Regions from separate parts of the Homo sapiens genome. Here all the other regions are reported to be linked to region 2. Evidence: microRNA targets listed by miRTarBase, many of them from high-throughput screens and not tested one by one. Region 2 holds a microRNA gene; each other region holds the end of a gene's coding sequence.
What was found. The annotated mature microRNA hsa-miR-124-3p reads UAAGGCACGCGGUGAAUGCCAA and lies in region 2 at 3,015-3,036, shown strand. An mRNA with a match to its seed (bases 2 to 7 or 8) in the 3' UTR can be bound and repressed. Matches are read on the target gene's strand: a 7mer-m8 pairs with bases 2 to 8, a 7mer-A1 pairs with bases 2 to 7 and ends in A, and an 8mer does both.

Region 1: the mRNA of TGFB1I1 is a reported target of hsa-miR-124-3p. The part of its 3' UTR that is shown has no 7-base or 8-base seed match.
Region 3: miRTarBase lists ANO1 as a target of hsa-miR-124-3p. The part of its 3' UTR that is shown has no 7-base or 8-base seed match.
Region 4: miRTarBase lists TARBP1 as a target of hsa-miR-124-3p. Seed matches in the 3' UTR shown: 7mer-m8 at 878-884 and 8mer at 1,016-1,023.
Region 5: miRTarBase lists MYH7B as a target of hsa-miR-124-3p. The part of its 3' UTR that is shown has no 7-base or 8-base seed match.

What each region holds. Positions count from the first base shown.
Region 1 is chr16:31,476,385-31,482,404 of GRCh38, forward strand. It overlaps TGFB1I1 (transforming growth factor beta 1 induced transcript 1), which reads left to right. Exons shown (of 11, transcript NM_001042454.3): 9 at 97-178; 10 at 478-626; 11 at 926-1,574. The coding sequence ends at 1,192. Among named protein-coding and RNA genes, the nearest start is that of SLC5A2, 3.7 kb to the right of the region's middle. RefSeq lists enhancers at 1-626, 627-1,359 and a silencer at 653-742.
Region 2 is chr8:64,376,196-64,382,215 of GRCh38, forward strand. MIR124-2 (microRNA 124-2) reads left to right here and starts at 2,954; the gene lies at 2,954-3,062. It overlaps MIR124-2HG (MIR124-2 host gene), which reads left to right. Exons shown (of 3, transcript NR_109792.1): 2 at 1,864-2,294; 3 at 5,408-6,020. RefSeq lists an enhancer at 371-948.
Region 3 is chr11:70,186,958-70,192,977 of GRCh38, reverse strand. ANO1 (anoctamin 1) reads right to left here. Exons shown (of 26, transcript NM_018043.7): 26 at 3,448-5,240. The coding sequence ends at 4,974. Among named protein-coding and RNA genes, the nearest start is that of FADD, 13 kb to the left of the region's middle. RefSeq lists an enhancer at 1,006-1,065.
Region 4 is chr1:234,386,433-234,392,452 of GRCh38, reverse strand. TARBP1 (tRNA guanosine 2 -O-methyltransferase TARBP1) reads left to right here. Exons shown (of 30, transcript NM_005646.4): 29 at 1-37; 30 at 708-1,140. The coding sequence ends at 876. Among named protein-coding and RNA genes, the nearest start is that of COA6-AS1, 16 kb to the right of the region's middle.
Region 5 is chr20:35,001,207-35,006,424 of GRCh38, forward strand. MYH7B (myosin heavy chain 7B) reads left to right here. Exons shown (of 45, transcript NM_020884.7): 42 at 39-143; 43 at 225-320; 44 at 742-879; 45 at 971-1,231. The coding sequence ends at 982. It overlaps TRPC4AP (transient receptor potential cation channel subfamily C member 4 associated protein), which reads right to left. Exons shown (of 19, transcript NM_015638.3): 16 at 4,489-4,597; 17 at 3,252-3,364; 18 at 2,204-2,410; 19 at 1,198-2,077. The coding sequence ends at 1,940. Among named protein-coding and RNA genes, the nearest start is that of MIR499B, 13 kb to the left of the region's middle.

The sequences.
Region 1 (6,020 bases), not on the chromosome of region 2:
CCCACGCATGCCTTAGTCCAGTCACCCGGGTTCCGCGCGGGAGAGGAAGGCGCGAAGGCACGGAGGCCGCGCTGAGTGCCCTCTCCCTCCCTGCAGAAGATGGTGACCGCCTTGGGCACTCACTGGCACCCAGAGCATTTCTGCTGCGTCAGTTGCGGGGAGCCCTTCGGAGATGAGGGTGAGAGTGAACTCGACTCCCATCTTAAAAGCTGCGGGTCCCCTCGACGTCTCGCCCCAGCCCCTCCGACCTCCGGAGTCCTCAGGGCCATGGTTTTCCTTCTGCTCTCTTCTGGCCCTGCCCTCTCCTACACAGACTCCGGACCCGAGCCCTCCCCGCTCTGTCCCGCCATAGACCCGGCTCCTCCTTCCCCAAGGCTCCCTCGGACTGCCCCTCCTTCGGCCCCAGATCTCAGGTCTTGTGGGTCCCCCGTCCCGCCCGCACCCTTTGCTTTCAGCCCACTCGGTTCCCTCTCCTAGGTTTCCACGAGCGCGAGGGCCGCCCCTACTGCCGCCGGGACTTCCTGCAGCTGTTCGCCCCGCGCTGCCAGGGCTGCCAGGGCCCCATCCTGGATAACTACATCTCGGCGCTCAGCGCGCTCTGGCACCCGGACTGTTTCGTCTGCAGGGTGCGAGCTGCGGGGCGGGGCGTTGGAGGGGCGGGTCAAGGGTACAGGGCTGTGGGGCGGGGCCTTGGAGGGGCGGGTCAAGGGTGCAGGGCAGGGGGCGGGCCCTCGGGGGGGCGGGTCACGGGAGGTGCTGCTAGGAACCTCGGGTGGGGCGAGTTTTCCGGGCAGGGTCCCACCGGACGGGATTCTTCGCGTCTAGGGCGGGCTGCGGGGTCCCAGGGCGTTATCCGCTAGTAACGCGCGTTGTCTGGCAGTGGCCGCTGACCTGTCTGTCCTCTTTCGCGGCTTCCCTTCCCCAGGAATGCTTCGCGCCCTTCTCGGGAGGCAGCTTTTTCGAGCACGAGGGCCGCCCGTTGTGCGAGAACCACTTCCACGCACGACGCGGCTCGCTGTGCGCCACGTGTGGCCTCCCTGTGACCGGCCGCTGCGTGTCGGCCCTGGGTCGCCGCTTCCACCCGGACCACTTCACATGCACCTTCTGCCTGCGCCCGCTCACCAAGGGGTCCTTCCAGGAGCGCGCCGGCAAGCCCTACTGCCAGCCCTGCTTCCTGAAGCTCTTCGGCTGACAGCCCGCTCGGCTCGCCCTCTCCCCCGGAGGCCGCGCCCTCCCGGAAAAGCCGGGTCCTCCAGACCCCGAGGCCTTGCTCTCAGAGCGGGAGGCCCCACCCACTGGAGAGCCCCGCCCCTAAGGTACTATGAGTCCTCAGGGGTCAAGTTCAGAAACGGCCCAGCCAGACCTAAACCCACACGCCCACAAAGTGGATTGCACACAGACAAGAACTCCCGTGCGGGCCTCCACTCTATTCCCACCCTTGAGGGAGCCCCCTTACTGGGGGAGGGTCCTTGCAATTCCAGCGAATCGGAGGCCAGGCCAGGACGTCCTTGCTCCCTGCACCCTCACTGTTCTGTGCACTTTTTCTACCTACATAAACACACGCATTCCACCTCTCCCTGGTGCTGTCTCTGAATGCGCGCAGGAGCTTGGCCCTGACTCCCCACCCCCGCGCTGGCTCTGTCCCCGGCCGTCTCTAGGTCACTGCCCTGTGGCCGCAGCGGGACCTGCAGCCTCAGCCCTTGCAGGTAGCCACTCCTGCACTTCCTACTTCAAGTATCAGATGAGCCTGAGGCTGGAAAGTGTGGCGACTCGCGCAGGACTGTACAGATAGTGGCAGAGCCAGGACAAGAGCTCCAACTGGGGCCCCACCGAATATTCCCGCCCTCATTACTCTTTCTTCAGTTCTATATTTTGTTTTGTTTTGTTTTGTCCTAAGAGATGAGGTCTCACTTTGTCGCCCAGGCTGGAGTACAGTGGTGCCATAGCTCACTGCAACCTCGAACTCCTGGTCTTGAGCGATCCTCCCGCCTTGGCCTCCCAAAGTACTGGGATTGCAGGTGTGAGCCACTGTGCCCGCCCTTCCCTTTATTCTTGAAATAAGCGCTTACAGTGGTTCATGCCTGTAATCCTGGCACTGTGGGAGGCCAGGGCGGGTGAATCACTTGAGGCCAGGAGTTTGAGACCAGCCTGGCCAACATGGGGAAACCCCGTCTCTACTACAAATACAAAAATTAGCTGGGTATGGTGGCACACGCTTGTAATCCCAGCTTCTCTGGAGGCTGAGGCAGGAGAATCAATTGAACTTGGGAGGCAGAGGTTGCAGTGAGCCGAGATCACGCCACTGCACTCCAGCCTGGGCAACAGAGCGAGACTCCGTCTCAAAAAAAAAAAAAAAAAAAAAAAAAAGAAAGAAAAGAAAGGAAGAAAGAAAGAGAAAGGAAGAAGGAAGGAAGGAAGGAGAGAGAAAGAACTTAATCTGCTCCCCTCCTGCACTGCCTTTGGTTCCCAGATTTTTTCTCCTATTAAAGGGCCTTGAGGGATGGAGCTCTATTCAGAGTGCCAGCTGTGCTCACCTTTTGGTTCTGGGCACTAAGGTACAGCTTCCCTCTTACTATTGACCCACAACATCTTGGATCACCTGAATGTTTCATGTAGTTACGGCCTCAGCTTAACCCTTTCTCACTCCCACCCCCAGGTGTCCCAGTCAAGGCAGAACAATCAGCGCACTCAGAGCCATTACTTACTGTCCCTGCTGGCCTGTCTGCCACCACCTGAGGCTTCTCCCGGCCTAGCCCTGTGCTGGGTGGTGCTGGGTCCAGAGATGAGTCAGGCTCACTGCCCTGGAGAGCCCCAGGCTGAGGAGGCAGATACCTGGACAGAGGATGACACTTGGTGTGGCCAGGTTGTGACTGAGGGAAGCACTGGGGGCTGTAGAAGCCAGAAGGTGGCTTCTTAACCCAGACTGGGAGTCAAGGGATGCATCCTGGAGTAACTGACACCCAAGACCTGAGCCAAGTCCTAGCAGAGAAGGATGGGGCCAGGGGTTTTCAGGTGTGGAAGATGGAGCCAAGGGTTTCAGGTGTGAAGAAGTTCAGGTTCCATCTGAGTCCCTAAGTCCCAGGGTGGTCCCCTGGGTCTAGACTCTAGGGACCTCTGGTGCTGGAAATGATAGGTCCTCAGAGCCCTTTCCAGCTCATCAGGAAGAGCTAGAAGCCGCAGGGAGCATGTATGGGCACAAGGAAAAGGTGAGGCGTCCATGGCCCCAGCCTCTCCCAGGCCCCCAGATCTCTTCCTCTCTAAGGCTCCTCTCCCATGGTCTTCCCAGGTCTCCTGCTCTTCCCCTTCCACATATTCTCCCCAAAGAATGTACCCCCAACCCCAGCCTGTAATCACCTCCCTATCTTGAGGATGCCCAAATTGGCATTCATTCATTCACCAAATATTTATTGAGCACTCCTGTGCCAGGCTCTGGGGAGACAATGGGGAACCAAGCAGCTATGACCCTTGCTTTCAGGGAGCTGAAGTCTAGTAGCGGAGACAGATGACAGCCAAGTACAAAGGTGACATGCGTGATGAAGGAGCGGTACCTTCCCGACCGCCTAGCTAAAGCCAATGCTTCCCTGGTTTCCGTGCCACGGCCCCTCCCTAGTTCCTTCCTAGCATGCAGTGCTCTTGCAAGTAGGAGTTTTTGTTTTTGTTTTTTTGAGACAGAGTTTCGCTCTGTTGCCCAGGCTGGGGTGCAGTGGTGCCATCTGGGCTCACTGCAACTTCTGCCTCCTGAGGTTGAACCTCTGGGTTCAAGCGATTCTCTTGCCTCAGCCTCCTGAGTAGCTGGGATTACAGGCTTGTGCCACCACTCCTGGCTACTTTTTTTCTGAGATGGAGTTTCGCTCTTGTTGCCCAGGCTGGAGTGCAATGGCGTGATCTCAGCTCACTGCAACCTCTGCCTCCCGGGTTCAAGAGATTCTCCTGCTTCAGCCTCCCGAGTATCTGGGATTAGAGGCATGCACCACCACACCCGGCTAATTTTGTATTTTTAGTAGAGACGGGGTTTCTCCATGTTGGTCGGGCTGATCTCGAACTCCTGACCTCAGGTGATTCACCCGCCTTGGCCTCCCAAAGTGCTGGGATTACAGGCGTGAGCCACTGCACCCAGCCCTAATTTTTATATCTTTAGTAAAGACGGGGTTTCACTTTGTTGGCCAGGCTGGTCTCGAACTCCTGACCTCAGGTGATTCCCCTGCCTCAGCCTCCAAAAATGCTGGGATTACAGGCATGAGCCACCACACCTGGACCTTATTGTTTCTGGCTTCTGTCTGATTCTGCAACCGGAACAGAAGCTCCCGAGAGCAGGCAGTGCATTTGTTTTGCTGACCATTTTCTCCCTGGTGTCTAGAACAGGTCCAGTACATAGCCAGTCTCCATACGTGTTTGTTAATGAAGGAAGGAACCAGGAAGGAAGGAAAGAGAGAGAGTACAATGGATGAAATAGAGAACTAAGTTAGGGGAGGTGGGGAAGAGATTACTTTCACCAGGTAGTAAAATGTAAGGTCTCAGCTGAGAGCCGAACATGGAGAAGGAGCCAGCTGTGCAAGGCGCCAAGGAGAGCATTCCCGGCAGACAGGAAGCAGGTGCAAAGGCCAGGGAGGAGGAGAGAGTCTGATGCCTTGGAAGAAAGAAGGCCACTGTGGCTGGACTGGAGCCAGCAATGGGGAGGCCAAAGAGGAAGGAGATGTCACATCATGAAGGCCTTTGACGGCCGTGGTGAAGGGACCTTATCTGAAATGTCTGTAACACACACGTGTCCTCTGACACTTGGCACTGGATTTCTCTCAGGCACTTTAAACTCATCACCCTCTGAAGCAGACACTGTGGGTGCCCCACCCATATACCTGCATGGCCCACCTTGGAAGTCATATACTGTGACAGTTTCCAGATACCCTGACTTGCAGCTCCTTCTGGAGTTTCTTGTCTGAGGCTGTTCTTGGGAGGAGGGAGTGTGCTCCGTGTTCTCAGCAGGCCTGAAGTGTGTGGACATTTCTGCAGCTTTTAGCCAGTGACAGACACAAATCAGGGAATAGATACCCCAACCACCTGGCCCCTCAAGGAACATTGCTATGGGGTGTTCTTCACAGTGTCTCAGAGTGTCCTTTTTGGGATGAGGCTCCAACTGCTCTTTGTGGTAACCTGACAAATGACACACCCTTACGCCAGGCGTGGTGGCTCACACCTGTAATCCCAGCACTTCGGGAGGCTGAGGCAGTTTGGCTCAGGATTTTGAGACCAGCCTGGGCAACACAGTGAAACCCCATCTGTATAAAAAATACAAAAATTAGCCAAGTGTTGTGGCGTGCCCGTAGTTCCAGCTATTTGGGAAGCTGAGGTGGGAGGATCCCTTGAGCCCAGGAGGTCGAGGCTGCAGTGAGCTGTGATCACACCACTGTACTCCAGCTTTGGTGACACAGCAAGACCCTGTCTCAAAACAAAGAAACACATGCTTTGTTGGTTTTTCTCCTTGTTTCATTTCTCTTCCCTACACCATCACAGTCCATACTGGAATCACCTCCTCAGGAAAGTCGTTGCACACAAATTCTCATCTCAGGGTCTCCTTTTAGAGGAATACAAGCTAAGGAACTCCTTCATCCAAACTCTGTCATATTACACTCAAAGCATTTTTCTCTGTTCCCCATCTCCGGGATGACCATCGCTGCCATAATCAGGCAGGACTTTCCTTCGACTGTCTCCTGACATCCAAGTCTGGTCAATTCTTCTAGAAAGGTAGACATACAGATATTAACCAGCCTCTCCCTTCTTGAATCCAGTCCTGTGCTGAGAAATGAGACTCCAGGGATGAATCAGATCAGTCCTGCTCTTTTTAATTTTTATTTATTTATTTTTTAAGAGATGAGGTCTCACTCCGCTGCCCAGGCTGGTTTCAAACTCCTGAGCTCAAGTGAGCCTCCTGCTGCAGCCTCCCAAAGTGCTAGGATTACAGGCATGAGCCCCCACACCCAGCCAGTCCTACTCTTGAGGAGACACTAGTTTGTTGGGAAGACAGA
Region 2 (6,020 bases):
TTCCAGTTTGATGTGTCTTTTAGCTTATTTCATAACCTGACTTTAGTGTGACCTGTAAAGGCCTGGAAAATCATATAAAGCAAAAACAATATGCAGGTTAGAAGAATTAAAATAGTTCATAATTAAAATTAAGTTAAAATTACATCATTTAAAAGGACCTTGGAGTTTATAAATAAATTAATTTTTGATCTTTATTCATCAGATTTGGCTATAAAATGAAACTGCAGTTCTTTGAATGTGCAGGTTGCTGGAATTAGATGCTACATATATTTTGAACACACATACTTATTTTAATATTTTAGTTTTAGACAACGTATTCAAAGTACTTGAGAAGAATATGCAATGACATTTTTTCCGTGTCCTAATCAGGACCATGGTGAGGTCCCCGTGGTTCACCGAGTGGTGGTCCAGGGCTCTGGTTGGGACGCTGAGTTAGGTTGGCAAAGCGTCATTGTTTTGAAAGGCACATTCGTCCGGAATGGCATTCGTGATAAGATTAAACATAAACCTAAACCTTGGCCTCGGGGGAAGGCAGGCTGCGGGGTTGAGAAGAGGAGATGCAGATTAGCTCTGCTTTTGCTGCTTGCGCACATAATTAAGAGGCGGTCCCTCAGCTGGAGCGTGGGCTGTGTCCGGCCTAAGGTGCTTATTTTCCTGTTACTTGGCCAACCGAGTGTGAGTGAACAGGAGCCCGAGAGCTTAAATGTGGGATCTAGATAAGGTGTCGACTGGGTTGTGGGCGTTTGTCTCCATGTTAGGGAGAGGCAACTGAGAACGGTGACTTTGGCTTGTTTTGAGAGAGCCTGGGTTTTGACAGCAGGACGGCGAAGGGAGCGCTTGGAGAGGCTGGAAGCTCGACGTCTTAGGGAGCTGCCTGCGGGCACTGGGTTGACGCCAAGAGGTTGTCGGCAAGGGCAGGGCTCTTGCCCTCTGCTGTACCTAGGCTCTGCAACTGGGGGCTGCGAGCCTTCTGCGGCTCTTTGGTTTCAAGGACACAGCGAGCTGCTCAGGACTTTGGGAGCCAACATCTGTCTGACTGGTGACGTCAGCAGCCCGTGTAATCCTCTTGTGCTGAAGGCAGATGCCTTATTTGTTTGGCTGGAGCGAGCCATTAATCCCTAATTCTGGATCAGCAAGCGAGGGGGAAAGACCGGACCGCTCCGACCCACCCCCTCCCTACCCCCACCTCCCACCTTAAAGCACCTTATACCACGGAAGGCTCTCAGCCTCTTCTTTCCTCTGCGAACGCGCTGAGCAGCGATTGAAAACGTTTTGGTCCTCTGCAGGTTTGAACAGGGCTAGCAGGTCTCTCTCCGGATTTCTAGGGCTATGGGTATATGTAATTCTTTCTCTCATCGATCGTTTCGATTCTCTTGCCGGTCTTGCAGTTTGCAGGGTCCTAAACGAAGAGGGGTGGAGATTCGAGAGTGCGGGTCTGGCGTGTGGTCCAAGGGAGGGGGTGAGGCTGGGAAAGGGGGTGCAGAATGCGGGAACGGCTGGGACTGCACAGAAGGACCATCTGCGGACTCGTTTTCACTGCTCCAGCTCCCGAAATCGTTTCTCTGGACGCGGCAGTATCCGCAGCGCATGCACCCTCCTCTGGACTTCCGCAGCCCAGACCTGCGCTTACAGTCATCGCGCCACCCCCTCCCCCCGGGCTGCGGGCCCCGCGCTCCGTGGGCTCAGGGTCCCCTCCGCGTCCCCCTGAAGCCTGGGGACGGAGGTCGCGACCGGCCGACTGGGGTCCTGTCCTCTTGTCACCTTGTATCCCTCGCATGCTCCCTCCCGCCTCGTGTCCCTCTCCCCACCCTCCCCCTCCTCTCTCCCGCCTCCCTAACACTGCGCTTTGATTCTGTTTTTCAGGGGCGCATTCTGGGGTCTCTGCGCAAGACCAGCTCTCAGCTCTCTCTCCTTTCCTCGGACTCTGGAGCGGGAGCGGGCCTTTCCCTCGGGTCGACCACGCCGTAGGGGACGCCGTGAAAAGAGCCGTCGCGCCCGCTGCCTCCTGCCCGCTGCGCAGAGGGCTCCGCCCGTAGAGGTCAACTTCCCTCACCCTTTTCTCTCTCCTGCTTGCCCTCCCTCCGCCCGGCCCAGGCGCTTCCAGCCCCAGACTGTGGCCACTGGCTGAGGAGTGCGAGTCGGCTGCGCTGCCCTGAGCCTAATCCCTCTTCCGGGCCCAGACCCGAGGTCCGCGCTCCTGGGCAGTGGGGAAGCTTTAGTGAGCAGGCTTTTCTCTCCGCAGCAAACTTGTAGCCAGACCAGATGGGCCGCCCAGCTCTCTCGGGACTAGGCAGGTGCGGATGAGTTAATTTTTCCGCATTACAAAGAAAGATGACCCAGCCCGCCCTTGGACTCTCTTTTCCCAAAATCTCCCAACCAAACCCGCGGTAACGTTATCAAAGGACACAGAGCCCAGGCATATCTGTGTGTTTATCTTACAGGCACACACGCATGGTTTTCTCTTTTATATGCTAGATTTCATCCCTGACAGCAGAAAATGATTGGCAATGGTTATGACGGAGAACATGCAATAGCGTGGTCCTTAAAAACCTGCCATTCCTTACAAGTGCCTTAGAAAGGATTCAGGGCGAACCAACTGGGTTAATTGCATTCAGTAAAATAACACGATTACAAAATTAGATCTGTACCAGAGGGGTAATTAACTTGGATCCACGCCGTCATTTGAAAACTAGATTTATAGGCTTATGTATGTTTTTAGGCGTGTGCTGTAAATGGCATGGAGATATATGCATATGTATACGCAGGCACACGCACCGTCTACACTTCCACGGAACAGACTAATTAACAGCGGCTCTGGCAGATGTGTCAGAGATGAGCAGAGACAGGAGCTGGGCTTATGAGTTATGACTCTAGGGGTAGAGACTCAGAGCGGAGAGAGGGGGATGGGCAGGGAGAGAAGAGTGGTAATCGCAGTGGGTCTTATACTTTCCGGATCAAGATTAGAGGCTCTGCTCTCCGTGTTCACAGCGGACCTTGATTTAATGTCATACAATTAAGGCACGCGGTGAATGCCAAGAGCGGAGCCTACGGCTGCACTTGAAGGACACCAAAGCATCTCAGGGTCAGAAAGGGGAAAAAGCAATTGCAGGGAATTTAGGGGGTAGTAAAAGGAACCCATCTCTTGCCGCATAAATGCCCCCCACCCCCACCCAGGACTGATTCTGGAAGCAACCTAGTGTTCGAAAGGGAAAGGCTCCTACTTTTCCATTACAGCCGCGGAAATCCGCAGGCAAATCTCCGAGGAGAATTTTAGGGAAGCTTCATTGACAGCTGTCTGGAGAGCAGTAGTTCCCGCCTGTGCAAATATTCCAGAGAGTTAAATCATTTAGAAAGCACTAGTTCTTTCAAGAACAGGTAGTGTGATTGTCTGCAGTCCTGGGCCAAGCTGGGAAAACAAAACAGCAGAGAGAGGTGTAACATTAAATAGCGTCCTGACCACACTGCGCAAGAAACAGCAAATGAAACGTCCAAACTTTGGAAAGATCTGAAGAACACTTGCCGCCCGCATTTCCCCTTGACTTCTCCCTTTTTCTTCCCAATCTCGAGGCGTTCATGCCTGGCTTTAAGACGCCAAGATAACTCTCTTGTTTTGGCATTGTCGCAATGTCCAAATCGGTCAAAGGAGTGGGATAAGGTGAAAGGACCAGGTCAGAAACTTTAGAAGGACTCGGTAAATTAATTTGTTTGGAAGCCAGTGAGGTGGACTATGTTGAGGTAGCAGTTCCGCACCACGACTTTGGAGCCAAAGAAAAACCCAGGCCGAAAAAGCGAGCCTTGATGTCTTTGTTCTGCCTTGGCCTGCAGGGGTTGGGAACAAAGGAGAGGAGCTAAGAGGATGCACCAAAGTAGCCGCGCCCTCCCTGCCTGGCGCTGTCCGCGGTGCTGACCGTGGCCCTTTTCTCTCTCCGTAATCAAACTGGAAAAGCAATAGGACCGTCCCGTCCCTACTCAAAAGAAGAGTAGGATATTAGGTAATTTGAAAAATAACATTTAAAAAGAGAAAAAGGTCACATACAGCAAAACAATATTTTACTGAAATCGTTCCCTCAAGCTGGTTGCTACCCTTGCCTGACACTTTTTGGTCTTCACGTAGGAATGCACACATACATACATTGTAAGTGTATGGGGAAACCATTTCCACTTTATTTAGGCTGAAACCTAAATCGCAGGATTGCAAGAAGGAAATTGAGGAGAATGAAGGCTTTATTATTATCCTTTTCTTTCTTAAATCATCTTCCTTAAAACAGAAACATAAGGTCCTCAGCCGCGGATTTTAGTGCTTACTTGGTCACCAAAGGGACGTGCAATGGACTCAAGTGTGGGCCTCGAGGCTTAACTAGGAAGGGGTGGGTCGGGGACCCACCAGGTGAAACAGGGCAGGAGCCCATGCAGCTTGCCACCTTCGGCCAGGCCTTGCAGCCCGGCAGCCTTAGTAGACGGGTACAGAGGGCTGAGCTCTGCAGACCGCTCTGCTGCGCAGGAGCCTGCTCGGCGCATCCCAGCCGGCGGGAGGCACTGGAGGGCCAGGAGGCCTGAAACCCGCACTGCGGAAAAACCGACCTCAGCCACATCCTCATAGCTCACGCGACGGAAAGAGGCAGGGCGGTTTACTAAATCTTATGCAGTGAAAATTCGCCTTAGAAATCGAAGGTTGGATGAGTCAGTATTGATATATTCAAAAATCTAAATTTCTTAGCATATTTCATCGTTCTTAGATGTTGAAAGTATTAAATGTAAACAATACAAATTTAAATTCCCTAAGTAATGAATCAAAATGGCAAGGGAGAGAGAGAGAGAGAGAGACGGAAAATCAACCAATTCGTAGCCACCCTGGCTGGCTATTTCTCAAAAGAAATTTCTATGCATTTGCTTGAGTTTGTCTATAAATTCACAAACATAAAGGGTGTTAAAATTAGTAACAGACAAAATAATTCAGGTTGGACAATAGAGACAGCAACACCGATTTTGATCCAGGTATAACAATGGGCCATGCATTGACAATGACCTAAAAGACATGTGTTCATTAAGTTATTTTTTTTACACGGGATGTAGATGTATCATAAAATTCATGAAATAAAGCGGCCAGGTGCAATATCCTCAGAGAGCTGCCTTCTCACCCCCTGCCTCAGGGCGGATTTTATCTGTCCTCGAATTTTAGAACTCTGCAAGTCGGGTCTTTCACATTCATCGATTACTTTGGTTTATATTTAATTTTATCCAATTTCGGAGTGGGTGGGTAAAGCACACTGGAAAATAGGGGCTGCTCGAATTACAAAATTTAAGGATTGGGAATATTCCTCTTGTGCCAATTAAAAGCAGTCGTTGGAAGCAGAAATGAATTTAAAGCATTACACGTTATCATGGCGGCCTTGCTTTTTCCTTCCAGTATTCATCCAATTGCGCTGATCTCCTGCATCCACATCTTGCGTAATCCACAAAGCAGCTATGGTCCAGGGCTGCAAAATCGTCCTGCCTGATTCCTTTAGAATTCATACTACCTCAGAGGAGCAAACCTAATCCCCTCAGCCTAATCCTACCTGTTTAGGATCATCTAAACTTGTCCTTCAGAAAGCTTGATCAGTTTAAAATTGCTTTCTAAATAGAAATGAAATACGTGATATGAGAGAGGTTAAAATACTGCTTAAAAAGGGAAACACTCAATTTAGTAATTCGGTTGCCTAGATGAAATCGAGTGGCTATTGATCCGTGATGTTTCTAGATTTTTAAGACTATGTACTTCCTATTTCTTTGGAAAATAATCATCCAGTTTGATGCCCATTACAAATTTTCCTGCTATGAAAGAAATTCTATGCGCGGCAGTTTTGCAATAAAACAACCCGGGCTTCGCAATGGGAGAACTTCGGTGCGGCGTGCCGTGAGAGTCCTTTGACAATCTCAGCTTTCATCTAGGTCTGAAATTAAAGCTTCTCGGAATAATTTAGGAACAGCTTGACCCGTTGAGATACTCAAGGACAACCCTCCAGGGAAATAGTATGTTT
Region 3 (6,020 bases), not on the chromosome of region 2:
TCTTCACTCAGCCGGAGCCCTGCATGAGTCGTCTCTAGCCACCTCTCCTGCGTCTCCTGTCACCTCCCTGCCCCTCTGCTCCTGGAGCTCGTCCAGCAGCTGCTGCCTTGGCCTGTGCACCGACTGTTGTGTGTTTCTGGCTCCTTGTTGCTCAAGTCCCAAGGGGCCTCCCTGCGCAGTGTAGTCACTCACCCTCAGTCAGTCACACTCCCTGCTGGATTTTCATCAGCGCTCCCTTTTCTGAAGTTGTCTGGTTCCACGGTTGATTTTCTGGTTCAGCATTGGACTTCCTTTGTGAGAATGTCATGTGGGAGGGAAGGGGCTGTGTCCTTGTTCTTCACCCTTCTCGTCCTAGTGCCTGACACACAGTGGGAGTTCATTTTTTTTTGGTGTGTGTGTGTATATATATATATATATATATATATATATATATATATATTTTTTTTTTACTTAGAGACTGGGTTTCACTCTGTTGGCCAGGCTGGTCTTGAACTCCTGGCCTCAAGTCATCCACCTCGGCCTCCCAAAGTGCTAGAATTACAGACGTGAGCCACTGCACCTGGTCTAATTTTTATTTATTTTTTGAGACAGGGTTTTGCTCTGTTGCCCAGGCTGCAGTGCAGTGATGCAATCATAGCTCACTGCAGCCTTGACCTCCTGGGCTCAAGTGATTCTCCTACCTCACTCTCTCGAGTAGCTGGGGCCACAGGTGCCCGCCACCATGCCCAGCTAATTTTTTTATTTCTTGTAGAGACAGGGTCTTGCTATGTTGCCCAGGCTGGTCTCGAACTCCTGGGCTCAAGCAATCCTTCTGTCTGGGCCTCTCAATGCAGTAATCCCTCATGTGGGATTACCAGCATGAGCCGCTGCACTTGGCCTACAGTAGGAGTTCAATAAATGTTTCTTGAATGTTCCATACATGTTTATGAGGTCTGGCCTTCAGACTTGGCATTAAAGCGCCCTGAGATCTTGGTCAAGAGCCTGTTTCCTCATCTATCAGATGTGGCTGAAGGTCCCCACCTGTGCCCTCCCAGGCTCTGGGAGGACCCATGGAGACAGGAGGGCAGAGGGAAGGGGTTCCCGCGATGCCAATCCTGGGTGCCGTTCTCCCTGAGCCCTCCCTACAGGATTGAGAAAGTGGGTGCCGTTCTCCTTGGGCCCTCCCTACAGGATCGAGAATGTGGGGCCCAAGCTTTAGGAGGATGCGCCTGACCAAGGTGGCAAGGCGCTGTGCTGAGGAGAGCCAGCACAAGGGGGCGCCCGAGGCCTGCCACAGGTCGAAAGAGGCCCTGCCTTGTCCTGGCGGTGAAGGGAAGGTGGCCGACGCCGAGGGCCGCACAAGGACACTGTCCCCAGCCCGAAGCGCCATACTGCTTTGCTGACGCTGTTAAAAATATACGTTCTTTTATGAAGTGATAGTGATTATAGGTGACGGTTCTAAAAAAATGTCCCCACTTGCCCAAATGAAAACATTGACAACCCAAGGTCAGTCCCAAAACGTTTTGAAGAAATTTGGGGTCCATGAAACCCTAAATACTAGTCTGTTGGGTTGTGGGATCAGAGGTCGAGATATGGGATTCTTGGAAGAGCCTGCTAGAAAGTGTGACCACAATCCCCCATCCCAACATACACACACACACACACACACACACACACACAAACACAGAGGAATATGTGGTACATCTGTGCATACACACAAGCACACTCAGACACCAGTACATATGCACACACACCAGCACACATGCACACACACACTAGCATATATGCACACACACCAGCACATATGCACACACACACCAGCACATATGCACACACACAAGCACACATGCATACACACACTAGCATATATGCAGACACCAGCACACATGCACACACACACACCAGCACATATGCACACACACTAGCATATATGCACACATATCAGCACATATACACACACACCAGCACACATGCACACACACACCAGCACATATGCACACACACACCAGCACACATGCACACACACACGCCAGCACACATGCACACACAGCACATATGCATACACACAGCACACATGCACACACACACCAGCACATATGCGCACACACAGCATATATGCACACACACCAGCACATATGCACACACACACAGCACATATGCACACACAGCACATATGCACACACACCAGCACATATGCACACACACCGGCACATATGCACACACACAGCACATATGCATATACAAACACAGGCAAAGGCAAACACGTGTGTGAACCCTGGGGTGATGCACACTGACATGGTTTGGCTCTGTCCCCACCTGAATCTCATGTTAAATTGTAATCCCCACGTGTCGAGGGCGGGACCTGGTGGGAGGTGGTTGAATCATGAGGCGCATTTCCGCCATGCTGTTCTTGTGATAGTGGGTGAGTTCTCACAACATCTGATGGTTTGAAAATGTGGCACTTGTCCCCTTTGCTCGCTCTCTCCTGCTCCACCATTGTGAAGACGTGCTTGCTTCCCCTTTGCTTTCTGCTACGATCGTTAAGTTTCCTGAGACCTCTCAGTCATGCCTCCTGTTAAGCATGCAAAAGTGTGAGTCAATTAAACCTCTTTTCTTCGTAAATTATCCAGTCTCAGGTAGTTCTATTTATTTATATATTTTTTGAGATGGGGTCTAACTCTGTCACCCAGATTGGTGTGCTATGGCATGATCTCGGTTCACTGCAGCCTTTGCTTCCCAGGTTCAAGTGATTCTCCTGCCTCAGCCTCCCCAGTAGCTGAGATGACAGGTGTGCGCCACCATGCTCGACTAATTTTTATGTAACTTTTTTTTTTGGAGAGATGGGATTTTGCCATGTTGGCCAGGCTGGTCTTGAACTCCTCACCTCCAGCAATCCACCCGCCTTGTCCTCCCAAAGTGCTGGGATTACAGGTGTGAGCCACCACACCTGGGCTCAGGTAGTTCTTTATAGCAGTGTGAGAACGGATAATACATACATAAACCATGCAAACACATAAACACAGGCATTCACAAGTACACACACGCACTGTATACACACGTGCATGCACACATAGACATATACACACACATGCATATATGCACACGTGTCCACATGCACACACACCTGCACCCATATGCAAATACAAGCAAATACAAATGCATACATACACACGTGATGTACACAAACATGTAAAGACACAGGCACATGCACACAAGCAAATGCGAACATGCGTGCACATGATGCATGCAAAACACATGCAAATGAATAGGCACACACATGTGCATGCACAAATGCACACACGTACAGAAAGATGAAGTCCCAAGAACATTTAGAGCCATGCGCAGGCCGGCACCAAAGGAAAGAGATGCCTGTCCGTCAGTGCTGAGTTTGCAGGGTCACTGGACTCTGGGGACGGCCTGTGAGTTTCCCAGGCAGACGTCAGGCAGACAGCATTCAAGTGAGAAAAGTGTCGTATATTCAAATTTATTTAGATGAATGTCCAGCCACAGTCCTCTGTGGATTTGTGTACATTCACTTTTTAAAAAAATGGTTTCCATAAAAGGATTTTTGGTAATTGCCTAATTTTTAATACAGTATTTATATACAAAACCCACTTCAAACTACTTACTGTACAAGAGAAAAGAGAAGCATCAGATTGCATGATTTTAGCAAATAATGGAAATGTACGACACCTATGAACTTTGACCACAGTTGGCAGATTAAAGGGAATGTAACATCACATCAATGAGATCTTCAAGACAAATTTATTTCTATTTTTCCTCCTGGCCTTTGCTAAAATGATGTTTCTCTTGGTGCTTGAGAAATTTCAGAGAGTTGTTTAGTATCATTGCTGCAAATTTAGATCACTCATATCATTTATGAGACTTGGTTTTATACACTTTTAAAATAATTGTCCAACAGTGACATTCCTGTGAGTAAAAATATAGAGAAGTGTTACCAAAATATAAGCCTTTATTAATAAAAATCTTTGGTAGTAACAGTATTTTAAATTCCTCTCAACGATATTTGGTTAACTAATAAACTCCCTCCACCTTTGAGCTACAGAAAAAAAATCCTCAATCTACCATATAATTGATATTTGAAAAAAAACCCATAAATATTCTAAAGCTTCCAGGGGACCCCTGGAAGCCCTAAGACTTCTTGAAACCCTGACACCATCTGTGGAAATGCTTCCGAGGTCATCTCTCTCTGCCCATTTTCTGGTCAACCGGTTTTGTCCCATAAGGAAGATGAACAACTCTGAGGTCGGCTTGGTGTGATGGGGGCAGGTGTGTGGCTGACAGTGGGGAGCCTGCTGGGGACGCCAAGGGTGCTGTTTCCTGCTTAATCAGGGACACCTCTGTCCCCTTCTAGCTTTCCAGGGATAACTGGGATGCTCCCACGCCCCCTGTGTGGCTCAGGGATGAGGCACTTCTCTCTCAGCCACTCAACTGATGGAAGGAAAAGGCGATGGAAAGTCTAACTTTTCTGAAACAGGTAGGTGACACCTTTTGGAACCGGAATCAATCATTATTCTTGCGTGGGTTTTCCATTTTCCCTGAAGCATCGCACCAGCTTTTGCGCGATGCCTCGGCTTACCATTTTGCATCTATCTTAAGGAATTAGGAGGATTCAGAGGAGGGTTTCTACGGGCCTCTGCTCACTTTTCACCTCTAGGGAGACTCAAGTTTCCAAGCATTCTTTCTGCAAAGCACCTGCCTTTGCTACCTTATTGCCGTATTACCAGCCATCATTTTGATTCATCTTGAATACTACAGATTAAAAAATATTCCCTGCATAATGGCTTTGTGCAAAAACAAGGGAAAGAAAACAGAAAGAAGAAAGGAAAATGTCCTATCAGAAAGTGGTCCTCCATGTTTGCAGAAAACCCAGGACCCACCGGGCCCTGGTGGGAGCGGGAAGCCGCCTGCCCTGGGAGAGGGTGCCCATCGGTCAGGATGCCCGGCTGGCCTGCCCAGCCCCGCTGGCATAGCTACAGGACGCCCCCGTGGTAGGCATGGCTGGGGGCTGGGCTGCCGAGGCTGTCTGGGCAGGCTTTGGTGTTGTGGTGGTTGCACGGCGGCTCGTCCTTCTGCCGCTCCTTCTCCATCCAGGTTTCCAGCAGCTGCTGCTTGTCTTGCTCCTCCCGCATGAACAGCTCCACCATGAGCACCTTCTCCTTGTGGATCTGCTGGCTGATGTCCTTGGGGATGTCCGGGATGACCCAGTCCACAAAGTCGCTCATGAACATGACCAGGTTCTGGAAGGAGAGGCAACGCGTGGCAGAAGGGAGGATGGCGCCTGGGGAAGTGCTCCTGACCTCTCTGCCTGGCCCCCATCTGGTGGAGTGCCACCCCACCACCTCCTGGCCCATTGACCTCCCTGGGCCTCAGTTTTCCAGAAGCTATAAAGGAGGCATAGAACCACCCGGCAGGCCTCTGGGAAATGTTGGCCGACTTTCTCGAACAAATCTGAACTCAGTAATTGGGAAAATCATCTGAGTCATTCTGAATTCTTTGATCAGGAGACTCAGGAAGTGACCTGATGGATCACACATCGCCAAATCTAACGAGCATCGAGCCTTTGGGGAAAAACATGAAACTGGAAATAGCCACAAATGGATCAAACTTTTACAGTTTGCAAAGCGTCCCAGGGTCTCCCTGAACATCTACCACCTCCACGGAGACATTTCTGGTGGATAGAAGGCAACATAAGTCAGTTTTTATGGAAAAACGGAATCTTCTTGTTTGCTGAACATCTGTCCAGCAAGCACGTGTGAGCACCCCCGGCTGAGCAGGTTCCCGCCACGGGCGGTGCTGGTGCCCCCTGGATTGGTGTCTTCTCCTGGTTGGTGCTCCCAGTCCCCAGCTGGGGCTGGGGTTGGCTGCTCACGCTCGCAGCTGCAGAACTTATGCCCCATCCCATCTCCCTCTTCCCAGCCTGGTCAGCCCAAAGCAGTGACTGGTCCATCTAGGGGCTGCCTTGCCTCCAGGTGAGGCCAGGTCTGGGGTGCCATGCCTGCTCCGGGGCTCCCTTGGGA
Region 4 (6,020 bases), not on the chromosome of region 2:
AATATTGCTTTCCTGAGAAATCTCTGCTCTTGTTGGGGTAAGAAGCTTCTTGTGTCCATAGTATATTCTCTGAGCCCCAGACTACTGGAAGATGTTACCTTGTTTTTTTTTGTTTTTGAGACGGAGTCTCACTCTGTAGCCCAGGCTGGAGTGTAGTGGCACAATCTCGGCTCACTACAACCTCTGCCTCATTGGCTCAAGCAATTTTCAGGCATCAGCTTCCCAAGTAGCTGGGATTACAGGCATGCTCCACGAGACCCAGGGTTTCACCATGTTGGCTAGGCTGGTCTCGAACTCCTGACCTCAAGTGATCCTCTGGCCTTGGCCTCCATGGTGGGATTACAGGCGTGAGCCACCGTGCCTGGCTAGAAGATGTTACTTTTCTGTTTTACAGTTTACCCTGACTCCTGCTCATACCTGCACTTTTCTTTGATTTGTAACATTTATAAGAAGCTCCCTGGGCTTTCCTTTTATTTCATCTCTCTGGCATGGCCAGCTGAACATGGAATTGACCCATCAGTCTTTTTTTTTACACTCTTATTTATTTCCCGGTACTACAGACTTAACTTCATTTGTTAATGTTTCTTTTAGTAACATTCAGAATATCAAAGAGAAAAATAAGTGAATAAACAAAAAATAAAAAGAATATCAAAGAGAAAAATTGTTTGTTACAGGAAAACTAATCTTTCTTCCATTTTCTTCCTCAGAAATGAACGTGAGGGAATTCCAGCAAATCTGATCCAACAGTTGGACGTTTGTGTGGAAATTCCTCAACAGGGCATTATCCGCTCCCTGAATGTCCATGTGAGTGGAGCCCTGCTGATCTGGGAGTACACCAGGCAGCAGCTGCTCTCGCACGGAGATACCAAGCCATGATGTGCCTTCCTTAGTGAACTGCTGCTGCTGTTCAGACTTTTTTAAAAAAAACTATTTGGACTAAAGAAACAGATTCTGAAATTTATTGTGATAATTTGTATTTCTTTTTTCTTGCAATTTAATGCCAAAAGTTTGCCATGTGCCTTAAACATATTACTATATATTTTCCCCTTTAATAAACACTTTTTGTTAAATTGTATTCTTCCTTTAATAAAATATTTTAAGCAATTGTGGAAATAAAACAATGGATTTTTTAAGAGAGAATTTATTTCCTAGAAACGCCTTTTGTCAGAAGTGTGGACTATGATAAAGCAGAGTTAAAGCAGCGATCATCTGTGAACACTCATACCCTTGAGTCATATGGAGACCAGGGAGGTTGAGGCAAAGGTTCCGAATGAAGAGGGGTCATCAGCCTCTGTGCCGCTTTCCGTCTCTGTACTCCCCTCGGGAACACATTTGGCAGGATGCAGAGCCAGCATCCCTGTGAGGCTCAGAATGCTCAGGTAGTAGGCTTTAATTTATTTTTAAAGCCATGAACTAGGCCATAATCATTCACAGTAAGTTTATGGCCAGGTGCTATGGCTCACGCCCCCCACACTTTGGGAGGCCAAGGCGGGTGGATCACCTGAGCTCAGGAATTTGAGACCAGCCTGGCCAACATGGTGAAACCCTGTCTCTACTAAAAATACAAAAATTAGCTGGGTGTGGTGACATGCACCTGTAATCCCAGCTACTTGGGAGGCTGAGGCAGGAGAATTGCTTGAACCTGGGAGGCTGAGGCAGGAGAATTGCTTGAACCTGGGAGGCAGAGGCTGCAGTGAGCCGAGATTGCGCCAGTGCACTCCAGCCTGAATGAGAGAATGAGACTCCATCTCAAAAAAAAAAAAAAAAAAAAGTTTATATGAAGTTTTTCATATCACCTTTGCACACAGAGATCAAATAGTGGTTAGAAATAGTCTATATTCTGACAACTATGAACATGGACCTAAAGGAGTTGAATTACTCCTGTATATCTTTATCGCAACAGAATGGAACCTGTAAGTGTTGATTGTTTCTGTTCTTTCAATTTTTTTCCTCTGGCATTTATTACTTAATTATTTATGAGTAACTATTTATCACTACCCAGCAATGAATTTCAATTATATCTGGGTCCTTTTAAATAATATTTAAATTTGAGCCCATTACCTGTAAATATTTTCTTCTGCAGTTTTCTTTAGAAATGACTGTTTTGTAGAAGGGTTGCAAAGAGAGTACACAAAGTTTTCATACACCCTTCACCCACATGCCTCTAATGTGATCTTAATAACCATGGTAACCTTCATCAAAGCTGAGAAAGTAACCATTGATAATGGCTCTCTTCACTAGACTATAGGCTTTATTCAAATCTCCCATTTTCCACTCTGTTTTCCACTCTGTTTTCTGCCCCAGGAGCCAACCCAGGATACCACATTGTGTGTTCCCTTAGTCTCCTCATATCTCTGACAGATCTTCAGTCTTTCCTTGTCTTTCCATGACCTGGACACTTGAAGAGTACTGGCCAAGTATTCTGTGAATGTCCCATAATTTGGGCTTGTCTGGTGTTTTCTCATTAGACTGAGTTTGTGGGTTTTAAGGAAGAACATGCCAGTGGTCAGGTGCCTTCCCATCACATCGTGTTAGGCGGCTCATGGCACCAGCAGGATGGACTACCCCCATCAATGGATGAAGGCTGCGCTTGCCACATTCTTCTCTGTGAAGTTGCTACCTGTCCTCTTAGTCTGTTAAAAGTGAGTGACTAGGGTGGGCGCGGTGGCTCACGCCTGTAATCCCAGCACTTTGGGAGGCCGGGGCGGGCAGATCACGAGGTCAGGAGATCGAGACCATCCTGGCTAACACGGTGAAACCCCGTCTCTACTAAAAATACAAAAAATTAGCCGGGCATGGTGGTGGCTGCCTGTAGTCCCAGCTACTCAGGAAGCTGAGGCAGGAGAATGGTGTGAACCCGGGAGGCGGAGCTTGCAGTGAGCCAAGATCGTGCCACCACACTCCAGCCTGGGTGACAGAGCGAGACTGTCTCAAAAAAAAAAAAAAAAAAAGTGAATGACTAAGCCCAGTCTGTACTAAAGGGTAGGGAGTGTAAACTCTGTGGGAGGGAGGAGTATCAAAGAATTCAGGAGCACCTGTTAAAATTACCACAGTAATTAATATTTGGGGGAGTATTTGGATGCTATGCAAATTACAAGCCCTGTCAGTGGATGGAACTAGGGGATCTGTGTATGTCTACCAACCCATGTATGTACATATCTATGATGTTTCTGCCTTTATCAGTCTAGATAGGTGAACATAAACGTGACTTCGTACTGACATCTCTGACACAATCCAGCACCACAGGATTCATTCTAACATTCACCTCTTGCTTTTAACTGCTTTTTCTGACCTAGACCTGGTTCTCATTATCTATATTTACTTATTTGTTCAATCCTAATGTAAACGTAGTTTCAGAATTGCAAATTTAGCAACTGTGTACAGTTCTTTTTGTCCGTAGCCTTACAGTATCTGGTCAAAACACCATTTTCCAGTTACCTAGGTCAGTCCCTTTCTTACCCACCTCTTTGAAAAGGGTTATGTCATATATTTTATAATACAACTAGACTCATCACGACCTGCATTCCATCTTGTAATCCCCCCTATATCCTGGTTGATTTTATTTGTGCATTCAGGTCACTTTTTATAGTGAACAGTCTGGATTTTGACAAGTGTGAACTCATGAATCTGTCACCACAGTGCCATAGTTTTGTCACCCAAAGTTTACTTGGGTGACCCCTTCATAGTCAACCCCTCTCCTTATCCCAACCATTGGTAACCACTGATCTGTTCTCTATTCTTCAGTTTCACCTTTTCCAGAATCTTATAAATGGCAGCATATAGTATGTAGCCTTTTGGATCTGGCTTCTTCACATAGGAAAGTGCATTTAAAGCTCATCTATGTTGTGTGACTCAGAAGTTAATTTTTCCTTAGTGCTGAGTGGTATCCCATTCATAGATGTATCGCAGTTTATCCATTCCTCTGTTGTAGGCATCTGGGTTGTTTCAAGGTTTTGGTGATTATGAATAAAGCTGCTTTGAGTAAATATTCATATACAGGTTTTGTTTTCAGTTCATTCGGTGAAATACCTAGGAGTGTGATTACCGGGTCATAAGGTAAGTGTATGTTTAACTCTGTAAAAAAGCTGTTTTCCAACGGGGCTTTATTTTTTCCATAGCCAGCAGCAGTGAATGACTGTTGCTCTGCATCGTCGGCAGCACTTGGTGTTGTCAACTTTTTAATTCAAGCCACTCTAATAGGTGTGTAGTGATTATGTCATTGTGGTATTAATTTGCATTACTCTAATGTTTCGTAACATGGAGCATCTTTTGATATATTTTTCAGAGTATACCTTCTAAGAAGTATGTACAAAATCTTATTTTTTAAACTGGATTGTTTTTCTTATTTTGAGAATTACAAGATTTATTCTGGATGCAAGTTCCTCATAAAATATATGATTTGCAAACATTGTCTCTCAGTCTGTAATTTACCTTCATTATTTTAAGAGTATCTTTCGCAGAGCAAAAGTTTTTAATTTTGATAAAGTCCAATTTAGCTTTTACTTGTATGGATTGTGCTTTTGATGCTTTATCTGAAAATTCATTTCCAGACACAAGATCATGCAGAACTTCTTCATATTTTCTTCAAGTTTTATAGTTTTACATTTTACATTTAGCTCTATGATCCATTTTGAGTTAATTTTTGTACCAAGCGTAAGGATGTTAAAGTTTATTTTTTGGTGTGTTTGGATATCCAATTTTTCTAGCACTATTTGTTGAAAAGATTATCCTTTCTCTGTTGAAATGCCTTTGTACTTCTGTCCAAACACAGTTGACTATTATATGGGTCTCTATTGTTCCATTAAACTATATCTTTCGTTTTGCCCATACCATACTGTGTTGATTACTGTACCTTCCAAATATGTCTTGAAATCAAGTAATGTGAATCCTCCAACTTTGTTCTTCCTTTTAGAATTGACTATTTTAGTTCCTTCACTTTTCCATATAAATTTTAGAATCAGCTTGTCAATATCTACAAAAAAGCTTATTGAGATTTTGATTGGGGTTGTATTGAACCTATAGATCAAATTGGAGAGAATTTAACCATATCTTAACAATAGCGAGTCTTCTAATCCATGAACACAGTATAGTCGTCCCTCAGTATCCATGATGCATTGGCTCCAAGACCCTCTGCAGATACCAAAATCTGCAGATGCTCAAGTTTCTTATATAAAATGGTATAGTATTTGCATATAATCTATACATATCCTCCCTTATACAGGCATACCTCATTTTATTGCACTTGATTTATTGTGCTTCACAGATAATGCATTTTTTACAAATTGAAGGTTTGTGGCAACCTTGTGTCAATCATATCTATCTGTGCCATTTTCCCGACAGCATGTGTCTCTGTTAGTTTTGCTAATTCTCACAGTATTTCAAATGTTTTCATTGCTTCATCTATTATGGTGATCTGTGATCAGTGATCTTTGATGTTACTTTTATAATTGCTTTGGGGTGCCACAAACTGTACCCATGTAAGATGGTGAACTTAACTGATAAATGTGTGTGTTCTGGCTGGGTGTGGTGGCTCACTCCTGTAATCCCAGCACTTTGGGAGGCTGAGGCGGGCGGATTCCTTGAGGTCAGGAGTTTGAGACCAGCCTGGCCAACATGGTGAAACACCGTCTCTACTAAAAATACAAAAATTAACTGGGCATGGTGGCACGCGACCGTAGTCCCAGCTACTCAGGAAGCTGAGGCAGGAGAATCGCTTGAATCCAGGAGGCAGAGGTTGCAGTGAGCCAAGATCATGCCACTGCACTGCAGCCTGGTGACAGAGCAAGACTCATCTCAAAAAAAAAAAAAAAATTGTGTGTTCTGACTGCTCCTCTCACTGGCTGCCATCTCTCTCTTCTCCTCAGGACTCCCTATTCCCTGAGACAACAATATTGAAATTAGGCCAATTAATAACACTATTGATGGCCTCTAAAGTGTTCAAGTGAAAGGAAAAGTGGCACGTCTCTCGCTTTAAATCAAAAGCTAGAAATGAAAGAGCTTAGTGAGGAAGCCAATGTCAA
Region 5 (5,218 bases), not on the chromosome of region 2:
GGGGTGGGCTTGGCATCAGGCTGTCCCCCTGCCTGCAGGTACGGGAGCTGGAGGCTGAGCTTGATGCAGAGCAGAAGAAGCACGCCGAGGCCCTTAAGGGCGTGCGCAAGCATGAGCGCCGTGTCAAGGAGCTCGCATACCAGGTGGGCGACAGGGTCTCCCTGGGGAGTGGCCCTGGAGCTGGCCCAGCCCAAGCAAGCCCTGAGTCCCCCTTGCCCGCCCAGGCCGAGGAGGACAGGAAGAACCTGGCTCGCATGCAGGACCTGGTGGACAAGCTGCAGAGCAAGGTCAAGAGCTACAAGCGCCAGTTTGAGGAGGCGGTGAGTGCGCTGGGGCCTGGACACCTGGACCGGGCACCCCAGCTCTGCCCCAGGGTCTGTGGCCAGGTGAGGCATCAGCAGCAGCTCCACCCTCCAAGGTCAGTGACCCAGAGGGAAGAGAGAAGCTTCTAACATCTCTGGGGAGATCAGACCTAGCTCCTTCTCATGGAACAGACCCCATGTGCTTTCCCCTGGCCAAGGCTGGGGCTGCCTCTGAGGGGTGGGGCAGGCACAAAAAGGCACATGAAGTTGGTGCGTCCCAACTTCCTTATTCCCGCTGTGGTATTGGTGAGGATGGACAGTGGCAATAGGAACAAAGTTGAGAACCAGGAGGAGCTAGCTCCCTTCTTGGACTGGGGCAGGGACCAGAATAAGCATCTCAGTCACCCAAGCGGAACCAAGGCCCTGTGTGTGCCCCCAGGAGCAGCAGGCCAACACCAACCTGGCCAAGTATCGCAAGGCCCAGCACGAGCTGGATGATGCGGAGGAGCGGGCAGACATGGCGGAAACCCAGGCCAACAAGCTGCGGGCACGGACCCGGGACGCCCTGGGCCCCAAGGTGAGGAGTGGCAGGGGCATTGCTCTCTGTGCAGGGGGACTGTGGGGGCTGACAGGTAGTACTGCTCACTCAGCTATCCCTTTCTCCTCAGCACAAGGAGTGACGGCCTGACCCCCTGGGCTCTAAAGAGGAATGTCTGCTGTTGCACATCTGGCTGAGGCCACCTGCCCCGATCCTGCCATCTCTGCATCGCCCCCTGCTGCCTTCAGCCTTCCCTGGGCCCTGAATAAACACCACAGCCAGTTTCCTTCTCATTCTTTTCTTTGGGGTTCAGGAGGAAAAACACAGTCCTAGGGACAAAAGCCAGGTCCACAGCAGTCATTTTTAAAATAAAGTTATTTAATAGTCTCCATTTAATTGGTTTATTTGCTGTTAATAAATTGGCAACACAAGGAAGGGCCCCATGTCCAGGCTCAGGCAGGAGCGGCTGCCTCAGGCAGAGGCAGGGCAGGCACAGCTGCCCCGTGCCCCAAGGGATGGAGGGAAAGGCCCCTCACTTCTGGGAGAACCCCCTTGGATGAACACAGCGGCCAATGAGCAAACAGAACCAGAGGAGCTACAGGAAAATGAGGCAGAGGGGCAGGCTTGGGGGAAGGCAGCATTCTCTGGTACCCACCACCCCTGCCCAGGGCTCAGAAGCCTTTGCCTGGGTCCAAAGGCCAGGGACAAGGGAGGCTTGGCTCACAGATGGGGGGTGGGGGTCACCCATATCTTCCTCCCCACTCTGGGACTGACTGACAGCCAAGAAACCGGCAGGAGCTCACACAGAGCTAATGCTAAATGTCCTCTTACCTCTGGGTGGCCCTGGGCCCCAGGGTTCTGAAGGAAAGGTGGGCATGGTACCCTGTCCTCATTATGGGGACTGAGGCTCTCCATGACCTAGGGCCCTCAGACCCAGGGGGACCAAGGGCTTCTAGGACTTCCCTCCCACCAAGCCTGTACCCAAAGACCTGGGGCAGGCAGAGAGCAGCAGGGAGGAACGGGAACAGGGCAGGGCGTGTGGCATCGTACCCACGCTCACCCACACTGGCCCAGCAGCCTCCCGAGGCCTGGCCCAAGGTCACTCCTCAGTGAAGTCCCTGTCTATGTCCATGTAGGGCTCCTCAATGTAGCTAACGAGAGCAGAGGGTGACTGCCGGTCCGGGTTCAACAGGATGGACACTGTCTCCTTCCAGTATGAGAAGCTGATGCAGGAGCTCTGGGCAAAGAGGGAGGGGCTGGGGGGCGCCTGGAGGACCCAGGTCAAGCCCAGCACCGGGACACCCCTCTGAGAGGCCCTGGGTCCGCGGCCCACCCATCACCCCCTTGAGGGTGGGGCACTCACGTTCTCTAGGCAGGTGCTGTCCTTGTCCTTGTGCAGGTAGTGCTGCTGCCAGAAGCGCAGCAGGTTGTGGAAGTTGTTGAGCAGGAAGCCGGGGTACTTCTTGCTGTGCTCCATCCGCTGCAGCAGCCGCAGGTACAGGGGCAGCCGCTCTTTCCGTCGGGCCAGCATCAGGATCACCAGGCTGGTGTTGAGGCAGCTGACGTTCTCCTGCAAGGCCACAGGCCCACAGGGTCAGGGGCTGGTGGGAGCCCCAGTGGCCCCTGGTGAACCTGGGTAGCCATCAGGCAGGGAGGAGAGTGGCCCCAGGCCTCGGGCCACCCACAGAGCTCTCCCTGCACAGAGGTGAGATAGGACTGGGGGAAGGGGGCCCCCAGCAGCCCCAGTTTCCTGACTGAGCACCTTCCTCTTCCCCACGCCCACCTCCCACCCCACCTGAGGCAACAACACCTGTCCCTGTCCAGACCTGGGCTCAAGCATCACTCCTTCCGGAAGGTCCGTCCCAGGCAGGGCTGGGTGCGTGTGTTGGGGCGGTTATCCCGCTTCAGAAGTGCCATTCAGCACTAGCCTGCGCGCCTCGGTGGGGAAAGAGTTCTGCCCCACTCACCATGCACTCCCACCTGGTGCTTCACCTCAGAACGGAACCAAAGACCACCTCTGAGAGGTGCTAAGATCACCCTCACTCTAGAAAAGAGGGGCAGGAGGCTCAGAGAAGGGAAGGCTGCATGACTATTCAGTGAGGGAGTTGGGCAGCCTCAGGTCCGATTCCAAAGCCCAGCAGGGCAGAAGGTGTGAGGGACGTGGACATGGGGGAGGCGGGGAGAGCACTGGCCTGCAAGTCAGCCTGTGACCTGAGGGCACTTGCGAGCCCTCCTTCCTTAGGCCCTGTCTGTACAATGGGACACTGATTCCTCCTGAGCACAGTCCTCAGAAGAGCTGGGTCTCCAGAGACGCACTTCTGGAGTGGGGGACAGAAACCTGCTGGGCACCAGGACAAAGGAAGTGGTTTCCAATCGACCTTCCCTGCTGTGTGTCTGCCGGGGCCTCTCACCTGGGTCAGCGTCTGCACGTGGATGATGTTGATGAGGCGGAAGAGGAAGGACATCTGCGTGGGCACCTGGGATATGTAGGCGAGCAGGCGGCATTCAGACAGTACCTCGGCAACTGTGGAGGGAGGCAGGGGTGCAGCAGGTCAGGCTTAGGCCCAGTGGCTGGGTCGCCCAGGCCTTTCGTGGAGCCCCGCTTGGGTCCTGACTCTGAAGCTAGGAGCTCATCATCAAAACAGCTTCAACGAAAGCTGACTGTGGCAGAAAGAAGGACCTCCAGCTGTCCTGCTACCAGGCAAAGCCATGTTCTCAGAGTGCCCAGGAGCACCCCACCTCATCCTCCAGAACCAAGCTCAGGGCAGCTCTCCCTCAGCCCTCCCCAGACTGGCTCCAGACCCGTGCCCTCCATATCACACACAGAAGAGTTCCCTCCACAGGAAGATGGATCCATGACGCTGCATTAAGAAAAACAACGCAAAAGTTCCACTCCTTCTGCAGAGGTCCTAGCGCAACTGGTTTTCCACACCAGCTCTCAGGTGAGTCCGGCCCAGTGCTGAGACCACAAGGCACAGGTTCTGCTCCGTCCACTAGTGTCGGAGCAACTGCTTCCCGCACAACTGGGAGGCAGGGCAATAACCGAAGGTACCAAAATCTGTGTGGCTGTTCCCCTGAAACAGACCCTCTGGGGCAGAAAAAGGAAGCAAACGGCTAAATTACCAACAACCGGGATACTTCTTGCTATCAATGACAGTGACCGTGACAAGGAACAAGTGCCTGACTTTTTGGGGGTGTGGGGGGGTCACAAACCCTCAGGAGAATCTGCTGGATGCCACAAGCCCTCTCCTAGGAAAAAAAGGAAACGCGTGCGCATACACATGGAAGTGCGTTAGCAAGTCCAGGAGGGTTCAGATGCCTGCTGCACCACAGGGCACCTGCGATGCCACGCACAGCACACTGAGGACGAGGGGGCCAACTCATCGTGCCAGGCAATACCAGCCCAGAAGAGGAAGGTCTTTTTCTGGTTTTCTTTGCATCTTGCTAGCAACAATGGATTTTCACCTTATTAAAGTGTTGAACAAGGCAGCAAAGCCAATTGCCCTGGAAGCCGCCACCTTGAGGCCGGCCACGTGGGCATCTGGTGCAGCTCCCTCAGTCATTCTTGTCTCCCTGCTGGAGACAGGGTGTCTGATGCCAGCATTCTTACCCTGCATGACTTGCCTTGACAGCCTGCCTTTCATGTACCTTTCATATCCACCTGGTTTTCAAATCGGTCCAGGGACAGAGTGACACAGCGCACCAGCATGTTGGAGTCCACCAGGGAGCTGTTGATCTGCTTCAGGAATACCTGGAACTATACAGAAACCAAGCTCACAGCAGGCAGTGGGCTGCTGGCCAGGTATGGCCATGGCCCGGGGGGATAGTCACTACAAGGGGCATCAGCGACCTCTACCAGCCCCACTGCTTCAGATAGGAAGACAGAGGCTCAGATAAGCTGAGGGACCTCCCCTCACCACCCAGGTACTAAGAGGCACTCCCCGGAATTCAGCACAGATCCGACACTCTCTCCAGTGGTTTTACGCTCAAGGGTGCTGGATTCCTTTAATTTTTACTTTTAATTTTACTTCAGCTAGCCTGAGCTGGGTTTCTGTCACACACACTCGGTGAGCCTAACACACCAGGCCCAGTCCCTCCCTACAGCGGCTCCCACCGTGGCACCCACCATGCTGCGTCACGGCAGGCGCACAAGCCACCCATTCCCACCCTCACTCCCTACCCACAAGCAGCCCCGGTTTTCATCCCTGCATTCCCAGGGTCTAGCACAAAGCCAGACAGAGCAGGTTCCAATGAATGTTTGCCAAAGACTGCCCAGACTCCCCCGTCGTCTCTAACGTAAAACCTGTGCCTAAAGCCTGGCAGACCAGGACTCCAGGTGAACTTCTGGACAACCCAGCACACTCCACAGAGCCCTGGG